Regions from separate parts of the Homo sapiens genome. Here region 1 is linked to region 2. Evidence: fine-mapped expression QTL. A gene starts in region 2. The other region holds a variant in brackets. All regions are shown on one strand. Distances are from middle to middle. Region 1 overlaps SLC7A7 (solute carrier family 7 member 7). Region 2 holds the start of SLC7A7 (solute carrier family 7 member 7).

What was found.
Region 1: its variant is fine-mapped to the expression of SLC7A7 in B cells (Schmiedel 2018, PIP 0.95).

The regions. Positions count from the first base shown.
Region 1 is chr14:22,783,159-22,795,066 of GRCh38, reverse strand. The region is part of intron 2 of SLC7A7 (solute carrier family 7 member 7); the gene reads left to right. Among named protein-coding and RNA genes, the nearest start is that of OXA1L, 22 kb to the right of the region's middle. RefSeq lists a silencer at 11,460-11,630. The variant TC/C (reference allele first, on the strand shown) is at 6,361.
Region 2 is chr14:22,809,662-22,819,458 of GRCh38, reverse strand. SLC7A7 (solute carrier family 7 member 7) reads left to right here and starts at 4,024. Exons shown (of 10, transcript NM_003982.4): 1 at 4,024-4,139; 2 at 6,019-6,559. The coding sequence starts at 6,061. RefSeq lists enhancers at 3,935-4,034, 4,223-4,729 and silencers at 6,037-6,096, 6,117-6,176.

The sequences.
Region 1 (11,908 bases), 25 kb after region 2:
AAACAATACTCATCACTCCCACTCCCTGACTACATAAATCTGAACCACTGGGGAGAAGAATGAGATGAGAATTGGCTTGGAGAACGAGAATTAAGGAAGCAGAAAAATTGCTTTTGAGGAGAATTGATGAGGGTCTTGTGTCACTAGAGGTGGGAAAAGCCGTTCTCAATTGTCACCATGCTTCAGAGTCACCTGGGGAGTTTTAAAAACATGCCGATGCCTGGGTTCCACCCCAGAATTTCTGACTTCATTGGTCTGGGTGGGGCCTGAGCACTGGACTGTTAAAGCTCGTCAAGTGATGCTAGTTTGCAGCCAGGATAGAGGAGCCTTGAGTTAGCAAAGGGTTGCGACTGTTCTGATACAGCTGCTCTGTGTGTGGTTATTTCCGTAGGTGATTACCTAAGGAAACACACCCAGAGAAGCAGATCCTCAGATTAGCCTGCGAAACTGTCTCAGGTCTCCTGCATCAGAACCTCTGGGGTGTGGGGCCCTGAAGTTGTGGGTCGACAAATTCCTCAGGTGGTACTGATGCTCACTCAGGCTTGAGATCTGGTACCTGAGGACTTGAACTGACCCCTAGCTAAGCAAACCAATAAGGATTGGATTTACACGGCTTGGAGAAGGGACTCACGGGGTTGTTACTATAAGACCCTCCTGGTACAAACTGCCTGCTTGCTCCCTCAGAGTGGTCAGAGCCACAGGGACCAAAGTGCTGACTGAGTTCCAGGAAGGAGAGCGGGAGGACTCTGATCCAGTGACCCACAGGGATTGCATTTGGTGTGTCTTCTTGCCAGAGGTGTAACTGCCCAAGGGGTTCACCTTGCCCACTGCCTAGACAGAGCCAATTCTTCAAGACAGGGATATTGCAATAATGAGTAATTCACACAGAGCCGGCTGTGCGGGAGACCGGAGTTTTATTATTACTCAAATCAGTCTCCCCGAACATTCTGGGAGCAGAGTTTTTAAGGATAACTTGGTGGGTCAGGGGAAGCCAGTGAGCCAGGAGTGCTGATTAGTTAGAGATGAAATCACAGGGAATCAGAGCTGTCTTCTTGCTCTCAGTCAGTTCCTGGGTGGGGGCCACAAGATCAGCTAAGCCAGTTTATTGATCTGGGTGGGGGCCAGCTGATCCACCAAGAGCAGGGTCTACAAAATACCTCAAGCACTGATCTTAGGAGCAGTTTAGGGAAGGTCAGAATCTTGTAGCTTCCAGCTGCGTGACTCCTAAACCATAATTTCTTTTTTTTTTTCGAGATGGAGTCTTGCTCTGTCACCCAGGCTGGAGTGCAGTGGTGTGATATTGGCTCACTGCCACCTCCACCTCCCGAGTTGAAGTAATTCTCCTGCCTCAGCCTCCCTAGTAGCTGGGGTTACAGGTGCACGCCACCACACCCAGCTAATTTTATTTTTTATTTTTAGTAGAGACAGGTTTTCACCATGTTGCCCAGGCTGGTCTTGAACTCCTGACCTCAGGTGATCCGCCCTCCTATGGCTCCCAAAGTGCTGGGATTACAGGCATGAGCCACCGTGCCCAGCCCTAAACCATAATTTCTAATCTTGTGGCTAATGTTAGTCCTACAAAGGCAATCTAGTCCCCAGGCAAGAAGGAGGTCTGCTTTGGGAAAGGGCTGTTATCCTCTTTGTCTAAATTATAAACTAAGTTTCTCCCAAAGTTAGTTCAGCCTATGCCTGGGAATGAATAAAGGCAGCTTGGAGGTTAGAAGCAAGATGGAGTCAGTTAAGTTAGATCTCTTTCACTGTCTCAGTCAAAATTTTGCAATTACAGAGGCTCTCACCCATGACACCTGAGTAAGCGAATTGGTTGTTTCTTTAAAATTTTTATTTTAATTGGCTGGGCGTGGTGGTTTACGCCTGTAATCCCAGCACTTTGGGAAGCCGAGGCGGGCGGATTACGAGGTCAGGAGATCGAGACCATCCTGGCTAACACGGTGAAACCCTGTCTCTACTAAAGAATACAAAAAATTAGCTGGGCTTGGTGGCGGGCGCCTGTAGTCTCAGCTACTTGGGAGGCTGAGGCAGGAGAACGGCATGAACCCGGGAGGCGGAGGTTGCAGTGAGCCAAGATCGCACCACTGCACTCCAGCCTGGGCGACAGAGCGAGACTCTGTCTTTAAAAAAAAAAAAAAGATATTTTTCTTTTCTTTTCCTTTCTCTCTCTCTCTCTCTCTCTCTCTCTCTTTCTTTCTTTGAGACGGGGCCTCACACTATCATCCAGGCTGGAGTGCAGTGGTGCAATCTCGGCTCACTGCAACCTCCGCCTCCTGGGTTCAAAATGATTCTCCTCTCTCAGACTCCCAGGTAGCTAGGATTACAGGCGTGCGCCACCACGGCTGGCTAATTTTTGTATTTTTAGTAGAGACGGGGTTTTGCCATGTTGGTCAGGCTGGTCATGAACGCTTGACCTCAGGTGATCCGCCCACTTCGGCTTCCCAAAATGCTGGGATTACAGGTGTGAGCCACCACCACGCCTGGTCAAAAATGTTATTTTATTTTCTGAGACGAAGTCTTGCTTTGTTGCCCAGGCTGGTGTGCAGTAGCATGGTTATGGGCTCAATCCTGCACTCAAGTGACCTTCCCACCTCAGCCTTCCAAGTAGCTAGGACCATCAGTGTGCACCACCAAGTCCAGCTAATTTGTAATTTTTTTGTAGAGAAAGGGTCTTGCTATGCTGCCCAGGCTGGTCTCCAACTCCTGGCCTCAAGTGATCCTCACGTCTTGGCCTTCCAAAGTGCTGGGATTATAGGCATGAGCCACTGCACCTGGAGTAAAAGGTTTCTGTAGTCTGAAAGGTAAAATAATTTGAAGGCCATCTGCTATCTGAGAGAAATAACAGCACCTAGGGAGAGTGGAAGAAATAATGTATCAAAGAAGCCAGGGTGAAATTGTGATTTCAAGGTGTAGAGAGTTTCCAGGCCGGGCGCGGTGGCTCAAGCCTGTAATCCCAGCACTTTGGGAGGCCAAGGCGGGTGGATCACGGGGTCAGGAAATTGAGACCATCCTGGCTAACATGGTGAAACCCCGTCTGTACTAAGAGTACAAAAAAATTAGCCGGACGTGGTGGCGGACGCCCGTAGTCCCAGCTACTCGGGAGGCTGAGGCAGGAGAATGGCGTGAACCCAGGAGGCGGAGCTTGCAGTGAGCCGAGATGGCGCCACTGCACTCCAGCCTGGGCGACAGAGCGAGACTCCATCTCAATTAAAAAAAAAAAAAAAAAGGTGTAGAGATTTTCCCAAACCAACATTAGACAAAACAAATGGGGATGCAGCAAAGAAAAGGAAGAAGAGACTTGAAATCTCTGGGTTTAGGTAACAGATATGAGGCGTTTCCAGAGAGCTTATATCTGGACCTTCTGAGGAAACAGCAGTGGTAGAGTATTTTGGAGACACCAGGGTATTAGCAGGCCTGAGTATGCCAGTTGTGGGGTTTGGCCTTCCCCCAGGAATAGTGTGCATCTGACTATACACAGACCCAGCCTAACCTAGAAATGTGCAGTTTTTCTGAGCAACATGTGACCAAGAGCTTGCTCACACCAATTAAGCCTAGGGACTGCTATCCTTCTGCTAATTGCTGTGGGATGAATGATGTCACCAGTCAGAAGATAGCTGAGATGTCTCACTGGTGACGTGAAGTTTAAAGTAGCAAACTGAGTGGCAGGTGGAATTTTCGTCTCTTTGTCAGCTGAAGGCTGTGTATGTGAAAGAAAAAAGAACACAGAACAGAGTTCCTAACCGTAAATTCTAAGATTCTAAGATACCAGAAAGATAAACTCCTGGTAAGGGATAGAGGAGGTTTATAGGGATTGGGAGAGATGTGTATAATAAGGCTTTAGAATGGAAATTTTAGAGGCAAGGAGAAAAATGCCTAGATAAAAGTATAAATCTGGGTATTTTGGAGACTACATAGCAGAGAATAAAGGCAGAGAGGAGTTGCTCAGTAACGCATTTGGAGAAAATGGGATGGAAGATCAGAAATGATGCTTTTGAACTCTTATCTACAAATATTACAAGTAAGGCTAATAAACGTATTTGACCTTTTTTTTTTTTTTTTGTGAGACGGAGTCTCGCTCTGTCACCAGGCTGGAGTGCAGTGGCGCGATCTTAGCTCACTGCAACCTCCGCCTCCTGGGCTCAAGTGATTCTCCTGCCTCAGCCTCCCCAGTAGCTGGGACTACAGGCGCACACCACCACACCCAGCTAATTTTTGTATTTTTAGTAGAGACGGGGTTTCACCATGTTGGCCAGGATGGTCTCAATCTCTTGAACTCGTGATTCGTCTGCCTCCGCCTCCCAAAGTGCTGGGATTACAGGCATGAGCCACTGTGCCCGGCCCGTATTTGACCTTTTACTGAAAGGAGGAAACAATTTCATAGGCATCAGCGATATTTGATTAGAATATGATAATGAAAGAGTATACTTTGTTCAAAAATGATGATTTGCTAGAAGAGCTGGGATTCATGTAGTACATTAAAGAGAGAGGTACATACTTGTTTGAGGATCTGCTATCATAAGGGATGCCTGCCTTCTTTGCATAAGGTCACATTTAGATTCTTTTGATTGCAGTGAGAGGGAAATTTCAGTACACCAAGATCCAGTGAGCTGTCAAGGGTTTCACTTCCCCTTTCTCCATTTTTCAACAAATGTAATGAATAGTACCACCCAGTGCTACTTCCAGTTTTCTGCCTGCAGTTAGGTTTTTTTTTTTTTTTTTTTTTTTTTTTTGAGACAGTCTTGCTCTGTCACCCAGGCTGGAATGCAGTGGTGCAATCAAGGATCACTGCAGCCTTGACCTCCCCAGGCTCAAGCAATTCTCCCACCTTAGCCTCCTGAGTAGTTGAGACTACAGGTGCACGCCACCAGGCCCAGCTAATTTTTGTATTTTTTGTAGAATCAGGGTTTCTCTATGTTGCCCAGGCTGGTTTCAAACTCCTGAGCTCAAGGGATCAGCCCACCCTGGCCTCCCAAAGTGCTGGAATTACAGGAGCGAGCCACTGTGCCCAGCCAACATATGAGTTTTCTATTGCTTCTCTAACAAGTTACCACCAATTGAGTGGCTGAAAACAACACAAATTTATCATCTCATAATTCTGGAGGTCAGAAGTCTGAAATGGGTCTCACTGGGCTAATATGAAGTAGCACTGTGTTTCTTTCTGGAGGCTTAAGGAGAGGATCCATCTTCTTGCCTTTCCCAGCTTCTAGAGTCTCATGGACCCTTCCATTTTCAAAGTCAGCAGTAACTGGGAGAGTCTTTCTCATATTGTACTACTCTGACATTGACCTTTCTGCCTCCCTCTTTCATCTTTAAGAACTTTTGTGATTACATTGGGCCCACCCAGAGAATACAGAATGATTTCCCTGTTTTGTCACTTGATTAGCAATCTTCATTCTGTCTGCAACTTTTTTCTTTTTTTTTTTTTTTTTTGAGCCAGAGTCTTGCTCTGTTGCCCAGGCTGAAGTGCAGTGGTGTGATCTTGGCTCACTGCAACCTCCGCCTCCTGGGTTCAAGCAATTCTCCTGCCTCAGCCTCCTGAGTAGCTGGGATTATAGGCACCCACCACCACACCCAGCTATTTTTTGTATTTTTAGTAGAGACGGGGTTTCACCGTGTTGGTTAGGCTGACTCATGTTGGTTAGAATTCCTGACCTCAGGTGATCTGCCCGCCTTGGCCTCCTAAAGTGCTGGGATTACAGGCATGAGCCACTGCGCCTGGCCTCTATCTGCAACTTTAATTCTCCCTTGCCATGCAATATAACATGGCTCACAGGTTCCAGGGATTAGGGGGTGGACATCTTTGGGGGGCCATTAGTCTACCTACCACAAGTGATAGCCCAGCTTTCCACCGGAGGTGGATGAGCAGCACTCTGAAGTGATAACTTAAGGTGGATTCTTGCCCAAATTCTAGGCTTGTAAGTTAAATCTGGTTAGTGAAGTACGAGCAGAAGGGTGGGAAATCATTAGTAACGTGTATGAATTCACTAAGAACAAGCCATACTCTGCTAACCTCACTTTTTGGTTCAATTTTAATTTTTTTATTCAAATATAATATACAGAAGGAACAGTGCAATCTCATAAGTTTATGGCTTAATGAATTGTCACTAGTTGAGCACATGTGTAACTAGCACCCTTGAGCCCTTCTTATGCTCTTCCCAGTCCCTGCCTCTCCACCCCACACAAAGGGAAATCACTATTCTGACTTCTAGTAGCATTGATTAGTTTTCTCTGATTTTATGTAAATGGATATAATCTATATGTACACTTTTGCATCTGGCTTGCTTATTATGTTTGAGATTCTTCTGTATTTTTGTCTGTAGTCGTAGATTGTTCACTTTTTTTTTTTTTTTT[TC/C]CCAGACAGAGTCTCACTCTGTCGCCCGGGCTGGAGTGCAGTGGTAGGATCTTGGCTCACTGCAACCTCCACCTCCCGGGTTCAAGCGATTCTCCTGCCTCAGCCTCCTGAGTAGCTGGGATGACAGGTGCCCGCCACCACGCCCAGCTAATTTTTGTATTTTTAGTAGAGACGGGGGTTTCACCATGTTGGCCAGGCTGATCTCAAACTCCTGACTTTGTGATCTGCCCGCCTTGGCCTCCCAACGTGCTAGGATTACAGATTGTTTATTCTTAGTGCTGTTTAGTATTTATTCAATCTACTGTTGCTGGGCATTTGGGTTGTTTCTAGTTTTTGACTACTGCAAGGGTGTAACTATGAATATTCTACATAAATATATACTAATTTGATTTGAATTGTTTGATAGCATCATTAGATTGTTAGAGCAGAGGCATGTGTATGCAGATTTCGGAGAGGTTCGTGGCAAATTCTCATGATATTCTTGTTGACAAGGTAGACTAGATAAAAATAAAGTTTGGTAGATTCTTAGTTGGCTGAATAACATTGTGGAATAATGACAAATACAGAAAGGTCTACAGTGATAGACTATACAGCTCTGTTGATCTTAGTCAACATTTTAATTTTTTTTTTTTTGAGACGAACTCTCGCTCTGTCACCCAGGCTGGAGTGCGGTGGCGCGATCTCGGCTCACTGCAACCGCCGCCTCCCGGGTTCACGCCATTCTCCTGCCTCAGCCTCCCGAGTAGCTGGGACTACAGGCACCCGCCACCACGCCCGGCTAACTTTTTGTATTTTTAGTAGAGATGGGGTTTCATTGTGTTAGCCAGGATGGTCTCGATCTCCTGACCTTGTGATCTGCCTGCCTCGGCCTCCCAAAGTGCTGGGATTACAGGCGTGAGCCACCGTGCCCGGCCTAACATTTTAATTTTTTTATTAAAAAAATTTTTTTTGAGACAGAGTGTTGCTCTGTCACCTAGGCTGGAGTGCAGTGGCACAATCTTGGCTCAGTGCAACCTCTGCCTCCTAGGCTCAAACAATTCCCATGTCTCAGCCTCCTGAGTAGCTGGGACCACAGGCGTGTGCCATCACACCCTGCTAATTTTTGCATTTTCCTTTTAGTAGAGATGGGGTTTTGCCATATTGCCAGGCTGGTCTCGAACTCCTGGCCTCAAGTGATCTGCCTGCCTCAGCCTCCCAAAGTGTTGGGATTACAGGCGTGAGCCACTGCTGCCAGCCCATGTCAACATTTATTTATTTATTTATTTATTTTGAGACGGAGTCTCACTCTGTCGCCCAGGCTGGAGTGTAGTGGTGTAATCTTGGCTCACTGCAACCTCCGCCTCCTGGGTTCAAGCGATTCTCCTGCCTCAGCCTCCCGAGTAGCTGGGACTACAGGTGCCCACCACCACACCCGGATAATTTTTGTTCTTTTAGTAGAGACGGGGTTTCACTATGTTGGCCAACCTGGTCTCAAACTCCTGACCTCAGGTGATCCTCCCTCCTCGGTCTCCCAAAGTACTGGTATTACAGGCGTGAGCCACTGCGCCCGGCCCTAGTCAACATTTTTAGGGTGACTTCAGTGAAGACTCAGGAGGTATGCTGATCAAATTTGCAGATTTCACAAAATTAAAGAAGGGATTTGAACTAATAAAATGAAGAAGGAAAAATCCCATATCATATAAGAATAATGCATAAAAACTCAGAGGAAAGTCACTAAGACTAAATATGAAGTCCTGTATCTGGGGGGAAAAAATCACTTTTTTTGTTTTGGAGAAAGGATCTTACTGTGTTGCCCAGGCTGCAGTGCAGTGGTGCGATCACAGCTCCCTGCAGCCTTGACCACTTGGGCTCAAGCGATCCCCCTGCCTCAACCTCCCAAGTAGCTGGGACCACAGGTGTGTGCCACCATGTCTGGCTAACTAAAAAAAATGTTTTGTGGAGATGTGTTCTCACAATGTTGCCCAGGCTGGTCTTGAACTCCTGGACTCAAGCGATCCTCCAACCTCGGCCTCCCAAAATGCTGGGATTATAGGCATGAGCCATCGCACCCAGCTAAAAAAATCATTTTTATAGGTCCAGAAAGAGGGGAGGAAAGATCTCATCACTTTGAGGTGGGAAAGAAAGGAGTTGTAGTAAACAATGATTTCAGGTTGAGACTCCGTAGTCGGCAACACGGTCTGGAGTTTTCTGTGTGGGGTCTTGCATTTCTGGGGAAATACTGACACAGTGAAGTATATGCAGTAAATGACAAAGTGAAATAAATGACAGTCCTGGGATGGTGAGGGGTCTGGAAGCCACATTTGCTCCACAAGGGGTTGTAAAATCTGGGTTTTAGCCTGAAGGAGTAAAGACTCAAGGGGACAGGATGTTCATCCTTTTTGTTTGTTTTTAGATGGAGTCTTGCTCTGTGGCCAGGCTGGAGTGCAGTGCCGTGATCTCGGCCCACTGCAACCTCTGCCTCCCGGGTTCAAGCAATTCCCCTGCCTCAGCCTCCCGAGTAGCTGGGACTACAGGCTTGTGCCACCATGCCTGGCTAATTTTTGTATTTTAGTAGAGACAGGTTTTCACCATGTTGGGCAGGCTGGTCTCAATTTCCTGACCTCGTGATCCACCCGCCTTGGCCTTTCAAAGTGCTGAGATTACAGGCGTGAGCCACTGCACCTGGCTTTTTTTTTTTTTTTTTTGAGACAGAGTCTCGCTCTGTGGCCCAGGCTGGAGTGCAGTGGCGCAATCTCGGTTCACTGCAAGCTCCGCCTCCCGGGTTCACGTCATTCTCCTGCCTCAGCCTCCTGAGTGTCTGGGACTATAGGCGCCTGCCACCACACCCGGCTAATTTTTTGTATTTTTAGTAGAGATGGGGTTTCACCGTGTTAGCCAGGATGGTCTTGATCTCCTGACCTCATGATCCGCCTGCCTCAGCTTCCCAAAGTGCTGGGATTACAGCGTGAGCCACCGCGCCTGGCTTTTTTTTTTTTTTTTGAGATGGAGTTTTGCTTTTGTTGCCTAGGCTGGTGCAATGGCGAGATCTCAGTTCACCGCAACCTCCACCTCCCGAGTTCAAGTGATTCTTCTGCCTCAGCTTCCCGACTAGCTGGGATTACAGGCATGTGCCACCACGCCTGGCCAATTTTTGTATTTTTAGTAGAGACGGAGTTTCTCCATGTTGGTCAGGCTGGTCTCGAACTCCCAACCTCAGATGATCTGCCCGCCTTGGCCTCCCAAAGTGCTGGGATTACAGGCGTGAGCCAGCGCCTGGCCGTGATATTCATCTTTAATGTTAAGAAGGGCCATTGGGTGGAAGAGGATTTAGCTTCATTCTGTGTGGAGACAGAGGAGGGGTCTGGCACTACTGGTAGAAGCTGGGAGGAAGACGCTGTTGGCTTAGTAAAAGGAAGAGCTATAGATCACTTTATTTTATTTTATTTTTTGAGATGGAGTCTCACTGTGTCACCCAGGCTGGAGTGCAGTGGCGTGATCTTGGCTCACTGCAATTTCTGCCTCCCGGGTTCAAATGATTCTCCTACCTCTGCCTCCAAGTAGCTGGGATTACAGGCATGCGCCACCACACTCAGCTAATATTTATATTTTTAGTAGAGACGGGGTTTCGCCATGGTGGCCAGACTGGTCTCAAACTCCTGGCCTCAAGTGATCTGCCCGCCTCAGTCTCTCAAGGTGCTGGGATTACAGGCGCGAACCACCGCGCCTGGCTCTATAGATCACTTTTAAAATGGAATGACGCCGGGCATGGTGGTTCACGCCTGTAATCATAAGTTTTGTGTGTTACATTGTGTGTATTTAAAGGTAATAGTGCTTACAGAATTGTGGGTTTAATGTTCTTTTTCAGGAAATGTTTCATTTAGGTGTCTAAACTAAACCTGAGCATCTGATCCAGAGTGGGCCTGCAAGCTTTGTTCTGTTCTGGATCCACCTGGTCTGGTGCTTTCTGGCTTTTAGTTCTAGCGCTGATGCTGGGCCTTACCACTAGAACTAGTCTCCTACTCCCGGGGACCGTATGTAGGCTGGGTTTGATGATCCATTCAGGAACATCTTTTTAGATGGTTATAGGAGTGACTTCTCTTTTTTTTTTTTGAGATGGAGTCTTGCTCTGTCACCAGGCTGGAGTGCAGTGGTGTGATCTTGGCTCACTGCATCCTCCGCCTCCTGGGTTCAAGTGATTCTCCTGCCTCAGCCTCCCAAGTAGATGGGACTACAGGCACACACCACCATGCCCAGCTAATTTTTGTATTTTTAGTAGAGACAGGGTTTCACCATGTTGGCCAGGATGGTCTCGATCTCTTGACCTCGTGATCTGTCCACCTCGGCCTCCCAAAGTGCTGGGATTACAGGCGTGAGCCACTGCACCCGGCCACGAGTGACTTCTTTGCAGATTCTTTTTTTCTCCCCCTGGGGTCAAAGCAGGAGTGCTGCTGCACCGAGTCAAGGGTCAAAGGTGATTTCAGGTTATCCTCTTATAGACTTGGCCCAGTGTTGGGTGGGGATTGAATTGCCCCTAGAGGTAGAAGGGGAGGGCATCTCTGCCCTTGAGGTTAACTTGCAGTTGCCTCCATATTATCCTAACCCCATGGTCCCCTCCTGTCCTTGGCCCTGAAGCAGGAGGTTGGGCTCCACTTCAAGAGCAGTGCACTTAGCTGGGCTCTGGGGCCAGTGGTCAGCTGTATCCGCTGAGGTGGGGACAAAAAGCCCTGTCAGCACTGCTGCCTGCCATACCCATTTCCTGCTCCCACAGTCAAGAGGCCCTGGAGGAAGCTAGGCTTTGAGGAAGAGGAGGGCTAGCTCTCTTCAGGCAGTTCCCTCTGCTCCCTGGTTTCTTTCTGTAGGATTCCCTTCCTCATTCAAACTGAGCCTTCTGTGCTCAGTACAGAGAGCAGATCAGGGCTAGAAGGTGGGTCAGAGAAATCAGGCTCAGGAGTGGGGGAGGTGGGATACTGGTGGACAAAGAGAGGGATACAAATGGATGGATAGAGAAGTAGAGAAGAGACTGGGCACGCCACGCCGGTGACTCACACCTGTAATCCCAGCACTTTGGGAGGCTGAGGCAGGCGGATCACCTGAGGTCAGGAGTTTGAGACTAGTCTGGCTAACATGGCGAAACCCTGTCTCTACTAAAAATACAAAAATTAGCTGGGCATGGTGTTGAATGTCTGTAATTCTAGCTACTCGGGAGGCTGAGGCAGGAGAACCGCTTGAACCCAGGAGGCGGAGGTTGCAGTGAGCTGAGATCGCACCACTGTACTCCAGCCTGGGGGACGGAGCAAGACTGTCTCGAAAAAAAAAAAAAAAGAAGTAGAGAAGCAATAGGGATTAAAATGTAAACAAGCCACCCAGGTGCCATGGCTCTTCCCTATAATCCCAGTTACTCCTCAGATAGCTGAGGTGGAAGGATTGCCTGAGGCCAGGAGTTCGAGACCAGCCTGGGCCACATAGCAAGACCCCGTCTCTAAAAAAATTAAAACAGCCAGGCACGGTGGCTCACACCTGTAATCCCAGCACTTTGGGAGGCTGAGGAGGGCAGATCACAAGGTCAGG
Region 2 (9,797 bases):
CACAGGAGTAAACAATTTCTTTTTTGTTTCACTTTTTTTTTTTTTTTTTAAAGAGACTGTCTTAGCCACAGTGGAATATAGAAAAACAAACAGAGAACTGGGGAGGGAGGAGCTGAGCTTCTAGCTTGGAGTGATGGGGAAATCTAGTCATACCAGAGTGTATCTGTTTTCTGTTTCTGTTGTTAGGGGAGGCAGCACAGACTGATTGGAGCCAGGAAGGCAGGACATGGGGTCTCTGGGAGAGAAAGTGTGTTCTTATAGTAGTTCCCTGAGCTTGGCTGAGGAGCCAAGACCCCGAATTATGTACTAGTTCCTGGAGAAATTGTGTTTTGGTGTTGTCATTCGAGGGTGAGGTTAGGGTGAGGGGCTCCATTGGCTGTCCTGCCCAGCACTGCATACTGGAGGCCCTGCTGCCAGTTTCTGAATCAAATTTCTTCCACAAGCTGTAGGATGAGTGTGTTGTCCTGTAATCTTCACTGGGTGTTCAGAGATGAATGCATCTCAGACAGGGAAAGGCAACAAGGGCTGCTGTTATCTTATGGGGTTTCTCATGTAAAACCTGGGGTGGGTCAGGCACGGTGGCTCACACCTTTAATCCCAGCACTTTGGGAGGCTGAGGTGGGAGGATCACGAGGTCAGGAGTTCGAGACCAGCCTGGACAACATGGTGAAACCCCATCTCTACTAAAAATACAAAAATTAGCTGGGCGCGGTGGCGGGCACCTGTAATCCCAGCTACTTGGGAGGCTGAGGCAGGAGAACCCGGGAGGCAGAGGTTGCAGTGAGCAGAGATTGTGCCACTGCACTCCAGCCTGGGGGACAAAGCAAAACTCCATCTCGGGTAAAAAAAACCCAAAAACCAAAAAAAAAAAAAAACCAAAAACCTGGGGTAGAAGAGCCCCTTTGGGAGAGCCTAGGGGTGTTGCTGGTCCCAGGCTGCCTGAATGGTGGGGCTGCCTGAATGGTGGAAGCATTACCCTAAGACCCAGGGTCTCAGGGAGAAATGTGAGCTGCCAAAGATGGTGCCTTCTTGTCCAGGGTGCTAGGTAGTGGTTGAGAAAAGAGGGGGTCTTCATGTTCTCAATGCATGGCAGCCTCCCTTGCCTAGTGCGCACGGGCAGACTGAAGTAGGTTAGAGTCCACTAGCACTTCCTGGTGCTACCACTAGGGCGTGCTGTTTGCTGGAGTGTGGGTTTTACCCCCAGCAGATTTCTGTCTCAAAATTCCACGGATAGGACTTCACTTTTCAGATGCTACCAGTCAGGAATGAAACCCTGTACACTTCTCTCTCCATTCCCCCTCACAGTTTTCCCTTCCTTTGTCCCTCCTTCCTTCCTTTCTTTTACGTCATATTAGGACACATGCCCACCCCTTGGTGCCAGTGAATTTGGTCTTAAAAGGGCAGGCGTGATGATGTGTTTGTGTTTTTTTTTTTGTTTGCTTTAGAAGTGGGCACCCTAGCAATAGCAGCACTGCCAAGAGGACTTGTAATCACCTCTTATCCCTGCAAAGAATGAGAAAGGGGAGGGGCAGCCAGGAAGGAGATTAACAAACTTTGTTGGAGCCTTTCGTCTAGGCTATAGACTGAAGGATGACAGAGGCTTTCTTTCTTTTTAATCTAGTCTGCTTACATCTTCCCCCAGGTAATTCATGTAGATAATTCCTGTCCAAAAGCAAGGTCTAAGGTGGCATCGGTGGCTCACGCCTGTAATCCCATCACTTTGGGAGGCAGAAGCAGGTGGATCAGTTGAGGCCAGGAGTTCAAGACCGGCCTGGCCAACATGGCAAAACCTCGTCTCTACTAGAAATACAAAAATTAGGCTGGGCACAATGGCTCATGCCTGTAATCCTAGCACTTTGGGAGGCCGAGGTGGGCGGATTGCCTGAGTTTAGGAGTTTAAGACCATCCTGGTCAATGTGGTGAAACCCCGACTCTACTAAAAACAAAAAAGATTAGCTGGGCGTGGTGGTGTGCACCTGTAATCCCAGCTACTCGGGAGGCTGAGGCAGGAGAATTGCTTGAACCCAGTAGGTGGAGGTTGCAGTGAGCCGAGATTGCACCACTGCACTCCAGCCTGGGCGACAGAGTAAGTGTCTGTCTCAAAATAAATAAAATAAAATAAAATAAAATAAAATAAAAATACCGAAATAAAAACACAAAAATTAGCCAGGTGTAATCCTAGTTACTCAGGAGGCTGATGCATGAGAATTGCTTGAACCAGGAGGTGGTGGAGGTTGCAGTGAGTCAAGATCGTGCCACTGCACTCCAGCCTGGGGGACAGAGTGAGACTCTGTCTCAAAAAAAGAAAATAAATAAAAAAAAAAAAAAATAAAAGGAAGGCCTAGAGACTAAGGCAGGCCAGGGGGATGGGGAGATGGAGAGATAGTATACTTGTGTGATTAAGAGTATATGAGCTCTGGAGGTTCCATGAGATAATGTGCTTAAGTCCTTAGCAGTGTGTCTGGCCCAGTAAGTGCTCAATAAGTGATAGCAATTATTATTACAGGAGCATTTTGGAGAAAAGGAGAGTCTCCTCCAGAAGGATTTCAGATCATTGTGAGCCTGTCTTGGGAGAAGCATGATCTCTGGGAACGCTCACACCAGAATCCTCCTCCTAGATTAAATTAAAAGTTTAAAGAGCTAGAATGGGAGGATGTATGGTAGAGATGTCTCCCAGAGATATTTAGATCTCTATTCTCTGGTTGTAGAATAACCAAAGAGGGTTAGAACAGATAGGAGAAGAAACAGACAGTTGGATTTCAGAATGGATAGGGTCTATTTCTGTTGGTAAAAGAGACTCAGAATACCAGATTTAAAGTAAATAATAAAGATAGCATAAACTATGTGATTTCCAAAAAGTGCTCAGCTTCCTCTGCCTGTTCTGGGCCTGTCTGTCCAACAGAATTCAGTGAAATCTGATTTCCTCATATTCTTTTTTAATTTTTTTTTTTTGAGATGGAGTCTTGCTGTGTTGCCCAGGCTGGAGTGCAGTGGCCTAATGTGGGTTCACTGCAAGCTCCGCCTCCCGGGTTCATGCCATTCTCCTCATTCTCCTGCCTCAGCCTCCCGAATAGCTGGGACTACAGGTGCCCGCCACCACGCCCGGCTAATTTTTATTTTTTTGTGTTTTTAGTAGAGACGGGGTTTCACCGTGTTAGCCAGGATGGTCTTGATCTCCTGACCTTGTGATCCGCCTGCCTCAGCCTCCCAAAGTGCTGGGATTACAGGCGTGAGCCACCGCGTCTGGCCTGATTTCCTCATATTTTTTAGGAAAGTGGAGTCAACTTATATTTGAGGAAGGCGTTTATAGGAATTTATGCTTATCCCAGAGATCTTGGTATGTTTTGTCAAGAATGAAAAGGCACGTGGGTCTGGTGGGGATGCAGTCAGATATTTGATCTCTTGACTGTGTTTCTTTTGAAGTAGTCTGAGGCTCAGACTTTGGGGCAGTGGCCCAGGCTTGGAGGCAACCCCCCAGTCTCTCTTTGCATGGGGAAGTGTGCAGAGTTCTCTTAGAACACCCAGTCACATGGTGTAGAGACTGCTCTTACACTTCCTGTAATCTCAGCATGGGAACAAGCCTTTGTGTCACACTGTGCAACCTTCCTCCCTTTCTTAAATGCTTGGGGTGAGAGAGAAGAGAGGCTAGGGTGGGGCATGGAGGACACAGAGAGAGAGAGTGCTGTGTATTCCTTCCCCGCTACTGTCCTGTCCTCAGCTAACTTGCTCTGGGACAGCTTCCCCAGGGCTACAGATACTGCACTCAGCTGACTGTCCTTTCTTCTGGGCCCCTGGTCCCAGAGCAGAGCTGACAAAGGAGATTCCTGAGAGAGCACCTTCTTATCACAGAAAGTGCTGAGCCAAGAGCTCCTAGCTGCCCCTTTTGCAGATGTGAAGGGCCAGTGAACCTTGGACCCAGATGGTTGCTTAATACTCCTTTCCCCCTCCCTCACTCCTTCCTTTGCGGGCTGCCTCACCTCCTCCACCCTTCTTGCTTAAATCCATAGGCATTTGTCTGGCCTTCCCTTTTACTGCTGGCTGGGAAGGAGGAGCATCAGACCACAGATCCTGGAAGGCACTTCTCTCCCTGACTGCTGCTCACACTGCCGTGAGAACCTGCTTATATCCAGGACCAAGGAGTGAGTGTGCGTTCCACCCTCTTCTCATCTCCACTTACCTTGCTAACCCTCCTCTTTGCTGCTGTGCAGTGTCTAATCGCTTCTTCTCCCGAGTGCCTCTCACCCTAACATCTCTCCATTGCTTGACTAGCCTCTCCCATTTTCCTCTCAGCTGTCTCCTGTTCGGTGTTTTCCAGCATGTGCTGCCTGGCTGCAGCTGTCTCCCTGCCTTGGCTCGGGGTGATATCTCTCCAGCAGCAACTCTGGGGTAGGGAGTGGCCATCAGCTGCCTCCAATCATCCCTAGGTTTTATGGTACATTGGATCGCCCTTCTCTCATTCATACTTTTTTGGGTGATTCAACGATGCTGATGTGAGGGATCGATAGCAGGAGGCTTAGAATACCAGAGAATGGGAAAGGAAAAGCAAGGAAAAGATAATAGCCTGTCTTCTTTCAGGGTGAAGTGGGTCTACTTGGGCTTTGCCAGGGCTGAAGACTCCAGCTAAGGGTTAAGGGATGCTCTTTGGGCAGGAGGATGGTTGTGGGTTTCCAGCAGGTTTCTGAAGCCTTTAGTTTTGGCAGACGTAGAGTCCTTGGGGAAAAGAGCAGTGTCATGAGACGCTCCCACAGATTAGCTGCTGGTAGGGTCAGTTCCTAATGTTGTACCTCAGCACAGGTGATCCCTGAAGCTGAAATTGGAGGGAAGACGGGTTTTGGATAAGGCTGAAAACTCGGGGTCAAGCCATTATAGTTATTTTCTGGGAGCCGCCACACTGCCCCCATGCCTGTCTTGTATTATAGCAGGCTCAGAGAGAACCAACATTTAGTGTTTTGTTTTTGATTTTGTTTTTTTTTTGAGACAGAGTTTTGCTCTTGTTGCCCAGGCTGGAGTGCAATGGCCCAGTCTTAGCTTACCGCAACCTCTGCCTCCCGGGCTCAAGTGATTCTCCTGCCTCAGCCTCCCAAGCAGCTGGGATTACAGGCATGTGCCACCACGCATGGCTAATTTTTGTATTTTTAGTAGAGACTGGGTTTCTAAATGTTGGTCAGGCTGGTCTCGAACTCCCGACTTTAGGTGATCTGCCCGCCTTGGCCTCCCAAAGTGCTGGGTTTACAGATGTGAGCCACAGCGCCCGGCCCAAGATTTAGTTCTCTATTTGGTGAGTCGGGTGGGCAGCAATGTCCTAATGATGAGAGACAGATCCTTTCTCTCTGGCGAATGAGTGCCTTCTCTTAAAAATTCAAGTTGGAGGCTGGGCAAGGTGGCTCACGCCTGTAATCCCAGCACTTTGGGAGGCCGAGGCGGGCGGATAACCTGAGGTCGGGAGTTTGAGACCATCCTGACCAACATGGAGAAACCCCATCTCTACTAAAAATACAAAATTAGCTGGGTGTGGTGGTGCATGCCTATAATCCCAGCTACTTGGGAGGCTGAGGCAGGAGAATCACTTGAACCCGGGAGGCGGAGGTTGCAGTGAGCTGAGATCGCGCCATTGCACTCCAGCCTGGGCAACAAGAGCAAAACTCCATCTCAAAAAAAAAAAAAAAAAATTAGCCACGCGTGGTGGCAGGTGCCTGTAATCCCAGCTACTTGGGAGGCTGAGGCAAGAGAAGCGCTTGAACCCGGGAGGCTGAGGTTGCAGTGAGCCGAGCCGAGATTGCACCACTGCACTCCAGCCTGGGCTACAGAGCGAGACTCTGTCAATAAATAAATAAATACATAGATAGATAGACAAATATTCAAGTTGGGGTTGTTTTGATGAGTGAGCTGGAGAAAAGGTTATTTGGAGGTCTCCGCATTGGTTGGTGAGCTGCCCGTATTACCCTGTGTTGGAGGCGGGTAGAGGTTCTATGTAATTGCCAACCACCTAATCTATAGCATCATCTTTCTTCCTTAAAGGGCAATGCCAGGAAGCTGGTGAAGGGTTTCCTCTCCTCCACCATGGTTGACAGCACTGAGTATGAAGTGGCCTCCCAGCCTGAGGTGGAAACCTCCCCTTTGGGTGATGGGGCCAGCCCAGGGCCGGAGCAGGTGAAGCTGAAGAAGGAGATCTCACTGCTTAACGGCGTGTGCCTGATTGTGGGGAACATGATCGGCTCGGGCATCTTTGTTTCCCCCAAGGGTGTGCTCATATACAGTGCCTCCTTTGGTCTCTCTCTGGTCATCTGGGCTGTCGGGGGCCTCTTCTCCGTCTTTGGGGCCCTTTGTTATGCGGAACTGGGCACCACCATTAAGAAATCTGGGGCCAGCTATGCCTATATCCTGGAGGCCTTTGGAGGATTCCTTGCTTTCATCAGACTCTGGACCTCCCTGCTCATCATTGAGCCCACCAGCCAGGCCATCATTGCCATCACCTTTGCCAACTACATGGTACAGCCTCTCTTCCCGAGCTGCTTCGCCCCTTATGCTGCCAGCCGCCTGCTGGCTGCTGCCTGCATTTGTAAGTGGGGCTGGGGTAGGAGGTGGTGGGTGGAGGGCTGGACAGAGGCTGGGATGTGAGTGCAGTCTGGGAGTAAGAAGGAGATAGAGAGGAATGTCTCTGACAACATATATATATATATATATAGTTAAAGTATGCTTTGTGTGAAAATTCAAACAGTACCACAGTGTATCGCAAAAACACTCACCTTTTCCCCAGCTTCTCACAGTAAGCACTATTAGCAGTTTGCATATTCTTCCTGATTTTTTTTTTTTTTTTTTAAAGAGACAGGTATTTTGCTCTGTCACCCAGACTGGAGTGCAGTGGTGTGATTATACCTTACTTCAGCCTCGAACTTCTAGGCTCAAGCTATCCTCCTGCCTCAGCCTCCTGAGTAGCAGGGACCACAGGCACACTGATTTTTTTTTCTTGTTCCTTCAAGAGATGTAGTTTTGGCAGGGTGTGGTGGCTTATGCCTGTAATCCCAGCACTTTGGGAGGCTGAAGTGGGCAGATCACCTGAGGTCAGGAGTTCGAGACTAGCCTGGCCAACATGGTGAAACCCCATCTCTACTAAAAATACAAAAATTAGCTGGGTGTGGTGGCAGGTGCCTGTAATCCCAGCTACTCAGGAGGCTGAGGCAGGAGAATCGCTTGAACCCAGGAGGCAGAGGTTGCGGTGAGCCAAGATCGCACCACTGCACTCCAGCCTGGGCAACAGAGTGAGACTCTATCTCAAAAAAATAAAAATAAAAAAAAAAGAGGTGTAGTTTTGTTCTTTTACAAAAATGAGGTCATACTAGTCTACATGTAATTCTACAGTGTGCTTTTCCTCTAGCATTATCAGTGACATTCTTTTCTACTTACAGATCTACTTTTTAAAAAATGCTTCATATTATTTCATGTGAATTTTAAGGATGCATAGTAGTTTATTTATCTAGCTGGTCCTCTGTTAATGGCCATGTACGTTGGTTTCAGTTTCTCAGTCTTACAGATAATGCTCCAGTGAATATCTTTTTGCAGCTGCATGAGTATTTCTGTAGGCTGGATTCTTCCTTTTTTTTTTTTTTTTTTTTTGAGATAGAGTCACTCTGTCGCCCAGGCTTGAGTGGTGCAATCTCAGCTCACTGCAACCTCCATCTTCTGGGTTCAAGTGATTCTCCTGCCTCAGCCTCCCTAGTAGCTGGGATTACAGGCATGTGCCACCATGCCTAGCTAATTTTTTTGTATTTTTGGTGGAGACGGGGTTTCACTGTGTTGGCCAGGCTGGACTCGAACTCCTGAGCTCAAGTGATCTACCTGCCTTGGCTTCCCAAAGTGTTGGGATCACAGGCGTGAGCCACTGCACCCGGCCTCTGTGGGCTAGATTTTTAATACTGTCATTTCAGTCCACCTTGGCTTTTTCTCCATCTCATAAATAAAACATTATTTAAATCTGTACATTCAGTAAAGCCATTGGAGGTGCTGAGATGATGATTCTCCATAGCCCCATCCCTCAGATGCCACTATTCTTGAAAAATGCCCTTCCAACCTGGGAGAGCCTAGGACCTTAGAGATGCCTTCCACCCTGCAACTGTGAAGAAGCTCAGACATTCTGTCAATTTGAGGGGCAGCTGCTCTAGCAGTTGGGGCACAGGAATTTTGCACCAGGTGCAATTGCTCATTGGCTCACCGCTCTCCAATCAGTTTGTGTCCTTTTTTCTTTCAATTTCTGTATTGCCCCATTCACTCCTCAACTTCCTTTCCAGCTTCTCTGATTTTACTGTTGTGTAGAGAACTGGCTGTCTTCTGTGGGGTCCTTCTGTGTTTTGTGTGTCCTTGTGTCTGGCCTGGACTCATCTCTGCATATGGGATGTTTGTCATACATGGCAACAGTCAGGGAGGGGTGGAAGGCACTGCTTTGTGTTGCAAGAAGGGGGTTTTCACTGAGGTTTTTTTTTTCCGAGACGGAGTTTCACTCTTGTTGCCCAGGCTGGAGTGCAATGGCACAATCTCGGCTCACCACAACCTCTGCCTCCCGGGTTCAAGTGATTCTCCTGCCTCAGCCTCTCAAGTAGCTGGGATTACAGGCATGTGCCACCACGCCTGGCTAATTTTTGTATTTTTATTAGAGACAGGGTTTCTCCATGTTGGTCAGGCTGGTCTTGAACTCCCGACCTCAGGTGATCCGCCCGCCTTGGCCTCCCAAAGTGCTGGGATTACAGGCATGAGCCACTGTGCCCAGCCTTCACTGAGGTCTTAAATATGATCTGTGATTTCTCTTGCATTACTTGCAGATGATCTGGTAGGTTGCTTACTGGCAAAACTAATTTTAGGATCTATTGGTCTTGGAGCACCCTCAAATGTGGGCATATGGTTAATTATATCATGTGCAGAGAAGGATCATTTCATCTAAGTAATATTTCTAAGATGGCTGCATTCCTTTAAAATACCAGAAATCTATTTTTTTTTTTTTTTTTGAGATGGAGTTTCGCTCTTGTTGCCCAGGCTGGAATGCAATGGCGTGATCTTGGCTCACCGCAACCTCTGCCTCCCAGGTTCAAGTGATTCTCCTGCCTCAGCCTCCCGAGTAGCTGGGATTACAGATGTGCTACCATGCCCGGCTAATTTTGTATTTTTAGTAGAGATGGGGTTTCTCCATGTTGGTCAGGCTAGTCTCGAACTCCGGACCTCAGGTAATCCGCCTACCTCGGCCTCCCAAAGTGCTGGGATTACAGGCATGGGCCACCTTCCCGGCCTTAGAATTCTATTATTTTAACTATCTTTGTCTGTGTCATTTCTGACAGCTCTTGTTCCTCGATTCTGACCTTGTGCCTACCTCTGCCAGTCAACCCTTTTTAATTTTCTGCTGTTGCTGCTTTTTTTTTTTTTTTTTTTTTTTTGAGACAGTGTTTCCCTCTTGTTGCCCAGGCTGGAGTGCAATGGTGCGATCTCAGCTCACTGCAACCTCCGCCTCCCGAGTTCCAGCGATTCTCTTGCCTCAGCCTCCCAAGTAGCTGGGATTACAGGCGCCCGCCACCACGCCAAGCTAATTTTTTGTATTTTTAGAAGAGATGGGATTTCACAGCCACTGCACCTGGCCAATTTTCTGCTTCTAATTTGGGTATAGAGACATACATGTTTAAATCCTCATTCACCCATGTACACATTCACGTGCCTGTACATCCTTGTAAGAATACATGCAAAGGCCGGGTGCAGTCGCTCATGCCTGTAATCCTAGCACTTTGGGAAGCTAAGATGGGCGGATCGTGAAACCCCCT